Linked DNA regions of Homo sapiens. The protein of the gene in region 1 purifies or fractionates together with the protein of each later gene. This does not show direct contact. Each region holds a gene or a part of one and is shown in the gene's direction. Other genes may lie near its edges.

Region 1 (3,745 bases):
CCTATTCTAGCATTCTGTCCCACTGCACCCTGCATGCAGCCCAGTGGGCCTCCTGTGTTCCTGAGTAAACCCAGTCCACATCCCTGGCACACAGTCAGGTTCACAGTCATTGCAAGGTGATAGGCACTGCAGAACCTCAATTGCATAGTAACCTCATCACAGTCTGGGATGAGGCCACACTCGAATCTTTGCCATCTGAAGATCTAGCAGAGGGCTTGGCACAGAATTATATACTAAATAAATAAATAAATAAATAAATAGAGTCCTCTCTCTACCTGCTCCACTGGATCAATCCCTGCCAGCACAGGGGCTCAGCTGCCCAGGGAGGCCTTGGCTCTTGACCAACCAGTTTGTGTCCATCAGAAGTGCTTGACAGTGACCACCAGGCAGGAGCTGGAGGGCCTGCCATCCTGAGCTCTAGCTCTGGTTCTGGATATTGGCTGAATGACTGCCACATTGACCTTCTGTCTGGGGCTCCTTTGATCTTTGTTGCTGCTGGATGCAATGAATTTCCTGGTCTTCCTTAGGGGCAATAGAAGGGCTAGGATTGGCTCTCACCTAACAGAAAACACATAAGGAACCTCTGAGGGATGGGGATGGAGGTTTGCTTCTGCACTGGGTTTTGCCTTCCATTGCTCTGCTGGCTGACGTCTTGGATAGAATCTCCCATTGAGGATTTGCACTCCTTGCCTCATGCTTCCTATGGCCTCTATTGTCTCTTCATCTTCATCATGCCACCTGAATCCCTGGCACTCTGTGTGCTCTGACCTTGGGCATAACACCTTTACTGTCCTTCTTTGACAGTTCCAGGAGAGGTTTGGTGGCCCTCGCTCCCTTGCAGGCTGTATATTGCTGTGGCATGATAACATGACCATGGCCATTTAACAAACCCCACAAGACAACCTAGCATCACACAACCAGGCCAGGTGCTGGGGAGGGACATGTGACTGGCCCCACTGGGCGCAGATGCCACAGGTTATTAGGGATAAAGTTGGGTTTCCTGCCATGGCTGGCGCCACCCAGTGGCAAAGACTCCTTTCATCTCTGTGCCCTCTGCTTCCCACCTTTTTATCTTCTGTGTCCTTTCTCAGAATGTCCCCTGGGCATATCTTTTGGGTCTTGAGTGCAAAAGAAATGATGTGACTGTTGGCATGAGGATTTATAAGGGCCCTATGGACCCACAGGCACAAGTAAATAGATCATCTTTTTTTTTTTTTTTTTTTGAGACAAAGTCTCACTCTCTCACCCAGGCTGGAGTTCAGTGGCGCGATCTCGGCTCACTGCAACCTTCGCCTGCCAGGCTCAAGTGATTCTCCTACCTCAGCTTCCCTAGTAGCTGAGATTACAGGCATGCGCCACCATGCCGGGCTAATTTTTGTATTTTTAGTAGAGATGGGGTTTCACCATGTTGGCCAGGCTGGTCTCAAACTCCTGACCTCAAAGTGATCTGCCCACCTCAGCCTCCCAAAGTGCTGGGATTACAGCATGAGGCACCACGCCTGGCCACATAGATCATTTTGAGGAATAAATCAGCCCATGTATGAATGCTGGTACCTGAGGTGAAAAAAACCATGGGTTTGAGCCCTGGCTTTGTCACTTCCTGAGGACATTAGTTTCCCCGGGGCTACTGCATCACTTTACCACTAACCGGGAGGCTGGAAGTTCAAAGCTGAGATGTCAGTGGACTGAACTCTGCTGAAGACTCCAGGGGAGGATCTGTCCTTGTCTCTTGCAGGTTCTGGCGGCCCCAAAGGTTCCTTGGCTTGTGGCTGCCTTACTCCCATCTCTGCCTCCGTCTGCACATGGCCTTTTCTCTCAGTCTCTCTTATAAGGACACTTGCCATTGGGTTTAAGGCTTTCTCAGGCAAGCAGGAATGTCTCTTCTTGAGATCCTTCATTAAGCCCTTCTTTCCAAATAAGCTCATATTCACAGGTTGTAGGAGTTAGGATGAGCATGTATGCATGTAGGGGACATTATTTAACCTACTGTACTGAATGGCCTTGAAAAGGCACTTAGCTTCCCTGAGCCTCGATTTCATTCTCTATAAAATGGGGATAGTAATTCCTGCCTTACGAGGCTATTACGAAAATTAAAGTGAGTTTGTCACATAGCAGCTGCTCAGTAAGCACACATTTTTAACACTGAGAGGTCTCCATTGCAAATCCCTTGATCATGACCATGCATACCTCTGCCCACCTCTACAACATCTCGTTTCTTGCCCTGGTTTTCCTTTTCTGGCTTTCTGACCTTCTCTGTGTTCCTAAAACTCCTAGCCCATTTCCTTCCATGTAGAAAGCACTTACCACATATTTTAAAGTTAACTCATATCCCCAGGCCAGGCTGGCTTTCTGTGAGTCCTCAGGACCATAGAGAAAGCATTAGTGAGTATCTAGTTCTTCCACTGGTTACAATGGAAGAGCTTACAAGTCGAGAGACCTGGAGACTAGACCCAGCTCTGCACCCTTAGAGCTGTGTGACCTTAAGCAAGCGTCTGAACTTCTCCAAACCCCAGGTTCTTCATCTGAAAGCAAAGCTGATGATGCCTGTCTTGTCAGCCTAAGCCAGCTTCATGCAAAGTTAGACTAGGATAATGTGGTGGGTGTCGAGTGCCCCCTGAGCACAGGGTCCTATCATCATTTCTAGCTCGGGCTGGAGGCACATTCCATAACTCCAACTGCCTGCTCCTACTCCATCTGCCTTCTTTCTCAGGCATCCCTCTCTGCCTCCCCTCCACCTATTCAGGCTTCCACTTCTGATCCTTTCCCCAGGTAGAAGTCCAAGGCCACTGCCACTCTGGCAAGGGCTTACTAACTCTGCCAGTGACTTGTCAGTCAGCCTGGCCATGAGCAGAGACTGCGGGATGGGGTGTCATGACCAGGGAAGTCGCATGCAGGCACCAGGCCTGCCTCTCTGTTCAGGGACTCACTGGTGCCGTCAGGACCAGCTTAGTTCTGCAGAGAGAAGACCCATTGTGCTGCAATGACAGGGGCCTCTGGCTCCAAAGCACAACAACAAGAACAAGGAGAACAAAGCAGTTTAAGTCCAGCTGGACCTCGGTTCAAATGGGCACTCTAACTTGCTAGCTGCATTGCCCTGAGCAGGCACATAAACCCTCTGAGCCTCAGTTTCCCCATCCGCACATGGCAACAACAGTCCTTACTTGTGGGTCCAGAGGTAATGGCTCTGAAGCAGGCATGTGGCACCTGATAGCTGTCCTGATGCAAAAGACAGGGCAAAGAGACTAACATTTATTCAGTGCTTCCTGTCTGCTGGATGCTATGCATGGGTTTTTCTCATTTAATTTGTACAGCTCTGTGCAGGATTAAGATGGAGAAAGAGACTAGCGAGAGCTGGTAAGAGAGGTGATACTTGTATTTGACCCCACACTGGTCTAGCCCTAAAGCCAGAGCTGAGTTCACTGCCCCATTACCTCCTCCTGCCAGTCTCCAGCCAGCACAGAAAGGCAAGGGGTTTGAAGTGGGTCTCAGAGTCTCTTTGGCTGGCAAGGATGTAGGCAGTGAGCCTGCTGGCTCTCGCCACCCTCCCCTGGCACAGTGACCACAGAGGGTGACCGAGGATCAAATGGTCCTGAGGATGGCCACTCACTGCTGGCTGCTCCTCACTCTCTTTGTAGTAGCCTTCATGGGCTCCCATCACCTCCACCCCTCTGATCCTCCCAGATCTGCTCCTTCCCTGACTCTCCTGTTTTGTCTCCTGCCCCGCCCCCTCCTCTTTCCACTTTCT
Region 2 (3,745 bases), on another chromosome or scaffold:
CTGTTTCCACTGTTACTGATCATCGCAGCCAGATATCAAGCCCTGCCTCTTTCGATTTGGGGTCTTCATCCTTCATCCAGTGGGGTCTGGCATGGCTGGACTCTGTCTTTGACCTGGTCATGGTGGCTGAGTACTTCGATGAGTCATTGGTTCTGCTGGCAGATGCCCTGTGCTGGGGTCTAGATGACGTGGTGGGCTTCATGCACAATGCCCAGGCTGGACATAAGCAGGGCCTCAGCACTGTCAGCAACAGTGGACTGACTGCGGAGGACCGGCAGCTGACTGCACGGGCCCGAGCCTGGAACAACCTGGACTGGGCTCTCTATGTCCACTTCAACCGCAGTCTCTGGGCACGGATAGAGAAATACGGCCAGGGCCGGCTGCAGACAGCTGTGGCCGAGCTCCGGGCTCGCCGAGAGGCCCTAGCGAAACATTGTCTGGTAGGGGGTGAGGCTTCTGACCCCAAATACATCACTGATCGCCGGTTCCGCCCCTTCCAGTTTGGGTCAGCTAAGGTTTTGGGCTATATACTTCGGAGTGGATTGAGCCCCCAAGACCAAGAGGAATGTGAGCGCCTAGCTACCCCTGAGCTCCAGTACAAGGACAAGCTGGATGCCAAGCAGTTCCCCCCTACCGTCTCACTGCCCCTCAAGACTTCAAGGCCACTCTCCCCATAAACATCAGACTACAGATTTAGGTGGAAGAGCAGCCATGTTTGAAGGGCACATGTGATGAGTGGGGGGCAGCAAGATGCCATTTCTGCATCTCCCAGAAGGGATGAGTCTTTGTCCCGATGCAAGCCCCCTCTTCGCTGGGCTCCCAGCAGTGCTTCCCTCCTCCACCCTCCACTCATTTTGTTCTTTCCCCCCAACTTTTTTTTTTTTTGAAACGGAGTCTTGCTCTGTCCCCCAGGCTGGAGTGCAGTGGCATGATCTCGGCTCACTGCAACCTCTGCCTCCCAGGTTCAAGCGATTCTCCTGCCTCAGCCTCCAGAGTAGCTAGGATTACAGATACGTGCCACCATACCCGGCTAATTTTTATATTTTTAGAGACAGGGATTCAACATGTTGGTTAGGCTGGTCTTGAACTCCTCACCTCAGGTGATCCACATGACTCTGCCTCCCAAAGTGCTGCCATTACAGGCGTGAGCCACTAGGCCTGACCTCCCCTTCCCCTTTCCTGCCCCAAGGCAGATCCACATCACCGAAGCTCCCTAGAGGGGCAAAAGATGGAGTGAGCCACAGGAAGTTTGGGGCGTGGTGAGTTGGAATGATACGTCCATTTCTCTATGAAATATTTGCTACTAGACTGTTCATTTCTCTCTGACATGTTTGTTGAATGAATAAATAATTTGAAACTTCTACTTGATTTATGGAGGGTGGAAAGGGGAGGGATGGAGAATCTTCCTGGGAGAAGTGGGGTTGGAAGGGTTGTTTTTTTTTTTTTTTCCGAGACAAGATCTCACTCTGTCACCTAGGCTGCAGTCCAGTGTCCCAATCATAGCTCACTTCAGCCTCAAACTCCTGGGCTCAAAGGATCCTCCTGCCTAGGCCTTCTAAGTAGCTGGGAATACAGGCGCGCGCCACCGCGCCCGGATAATTTTTAAATTTTTTGCAGAGAGGAGTTCTTGCTATGTTGGCCAGGGTGGTCTTGAACTCCTGGCCTCAAGCGATCCTGCCGCCTCGGCCTCCCACAGTGCTGGGATTACTGGCGTGAGCCAACCCGCCTGGCCGACGAGGTCTTCCATTTCTTTTCCAAGAAGCCTGGCCGCAGCCCCCGCCTGCATTCTCGCAGCCTCAGAGCAGCGGGACCCCGCCCCCTCCTCCACGGTCCGGGCACCCGCAGATTCCGGGGCCTCGGCGGCCACGCCCCCTCCCTTCCGCTTCCTGTTTCTCTCCAGTCATTCGGCTCAGTACCCCGGTTCCGGCGCTGCCGGGTCTCGGTTCGGGTTCGTTGCCCCGGTGCCGGGACCGGGCCGGTCTCTCCGGCCGCCCCAGCCGGGCGCAGCAGCCGGAGGTGTCGGGACCCTCTGGACCCACCCTAGCGGGCCCCGCCGGCGGTCGGCCTCCGGTCCGGGCTCCCAGTCGCGCCGTCCTCGCCGCCCCATGGAGTCCCAGTGCGACTACTCGATGTACTTCCCGGCCGTGCCGCTGCCGCCGCGCGCGGAGCTGGCAGGGGATCCGGGCCGGTACCGGGCGCTGCCCCGGCGCAACCATCTGTACTTGGGGGAGACTGTCCGTTTTCTGCTGGTGTTGCGCTGCCGGGGCGGTGCGGGGTCCGGCACCGGGGGCGGCCCGGGCTTGGGCTCCAGAGGAGCCTGGGCAGAACTGGCAACCGCCCTGGCCGCCCTGGCCTCGGTCAGCGCCGGAGGCGGGATGCCGGGGGGCGGCGGCGCCGGCGACCAGGATTCGGAGCCCCCAGGGGGAGGGGATCCTGGGGGTGGGGGTTTGTTCCGAGGCTGCAGCCCCCTTCTCACCCACGGCCCGGGCCCTGCTACCTCAGGGGGAGCGACCACGGTGAGGAGCTTTGGGGGACCTGGCACAGGACGGAGGGGCGGTTTGCTGGGGGCCTGAGGCAGGAGGCAGATGAACTGCCGGTCTTAAAGGGAAAGGCTGCAGGCTGCCTCTGACTTGCTCCTGACCTCTTCACCCCTTTCCCAACCCCAGCTGCCTGTGGAGGAACCGATTGTGTCCACAGATGAGGTCATCTTCCCACTCACCGTTTCACTGGATAGACTGCCCCCAGGGACACCTAAGGCCAAGGTAAGATGAGCAAGAGTGGAGCTATTGTCCTAATTCAGACACCTTTTCCGGGCTCAGCCATCTGTCTTTCCTCTTGACAGATTGTAGTGACTGTGTGGAAGCGGGAGATTGAGGCACCAGAGGTCAGAGATCAAGGCTACCTGCGATTGCTGCAGACCCGATCTCCTGGGGAGACATTCCGGGGCGAGCAGAGCGCTTTCAAGGCCCAAGGTGGGCAGGGCAGCGCAGAGGCAAAGGGCTAGAGTCTGGGAATTGGGGGACAGAGGGGAGGGGTCACACTGGAAAGTGGCTAATGGGCTCTGAGAAGAGGAAGGTGAGAATTCTGGGTTGGAGGTGAGGTCAGCCTCCAGACCATCACTTCTTGCCCCCACCCCCTCCCGCAGTGAGCACGCTGCTGACTCTGCTGCCCCCTCCGGTTCTGAGATGCCGGCAGTTCACTGTGGCTGGAAAACACTTGACCGTGCTCAAGGGTAAGCAGGGCTGCCGGCTCCAGCCTCCGGGAGCAACAAGGGAACTGATTGGATGCAGTTCCTCTGGGCAGGCTGGTGGGGTAGGTCCGGTTTTTTCTGGGTAAAGGTGGGGCCTGAGGGGTCCAGCTATTCTGAGCCAAGCTGGTCCTCTCCCACAGTGCTGAACAGCTCCTCTCAGGAGGAAATCTCCATCTGGGATATCCGAATCCTCCCCAACTTCAACGCCAGTTATCTACCTGTCATGCCCGATGGCTCTGTGCTGCTGGTGGACAATGTCTGGTGAGGTCCTGGGAGGGGCGAGGCTGTGAAGTGGTGGGGATGGCTTCAGGGGCTGAGCTCTGGCATGGGGAGACCATGCCTTGTCCTCTTTTCTGAGCTAGTCACCAGTCTGGGGAAGTCTCCATGGGCTCCTTCTGCCGCCTACCCGGGACCTCTGGCTGCTTCCCCTGCCCGCTGAATGCCCTGGAGGAACACAACTTCCTGTTTCAGCTGAGAGGGGGTGAGCAGCCCCCT

What was found.
Region 2: the proteins of STMN4 (region 1) and TRAPPC14 purify together in Homo sapiens (affinity purification with mass spectrometry; 2 studies listed by BioGRID and IntAct, with this or other methods). This does not show direct contact.

What each region holds. Positions count from the first base shown.
Region 1 is NC_000008.11:27,244,733-27,248,477, reverse strand, and holds part of STMN4 (stathmin-4), read left to right. Parts: intron 1-3,745. UniProt on the Homo sapiens protein: Exhibits microtubule-destabilizing activity.
Region 2 is NC_000007.14:100,156,860-100,160,604, reverse strand, and holds the start of TRAPPC14 (trafficking protein particle complex subunit 14), read left to right. Parts: upstream 1-1,881; 5' UTR 1,882-2,105; coding exon 2,106-2,516; intron 2,517-2,666; coding exon 2,667-2,762; intron 2,763-2,842; coding exon 2,843-2,972; intron 2,973-3,145; coding exon 3,146-3,232; intron 3,233-3,390; coding exon 3,391-3,511; intron 3,512-3,612; coding exon 3,613-3,745. Other genes in the region: GAL3ST4 (galactose-3-O-sulfotransferase 4), read left to right, coding at 1-677. UniProt on the Homo sapiens protein: Specific subunit of the TRAPP (transport protein particle) II complex, a highly conserved vesicle tethering complex that functions in late Golgi trafficking as a membrane tether. TRAPP II complex also has GEF activity toward RAB1A.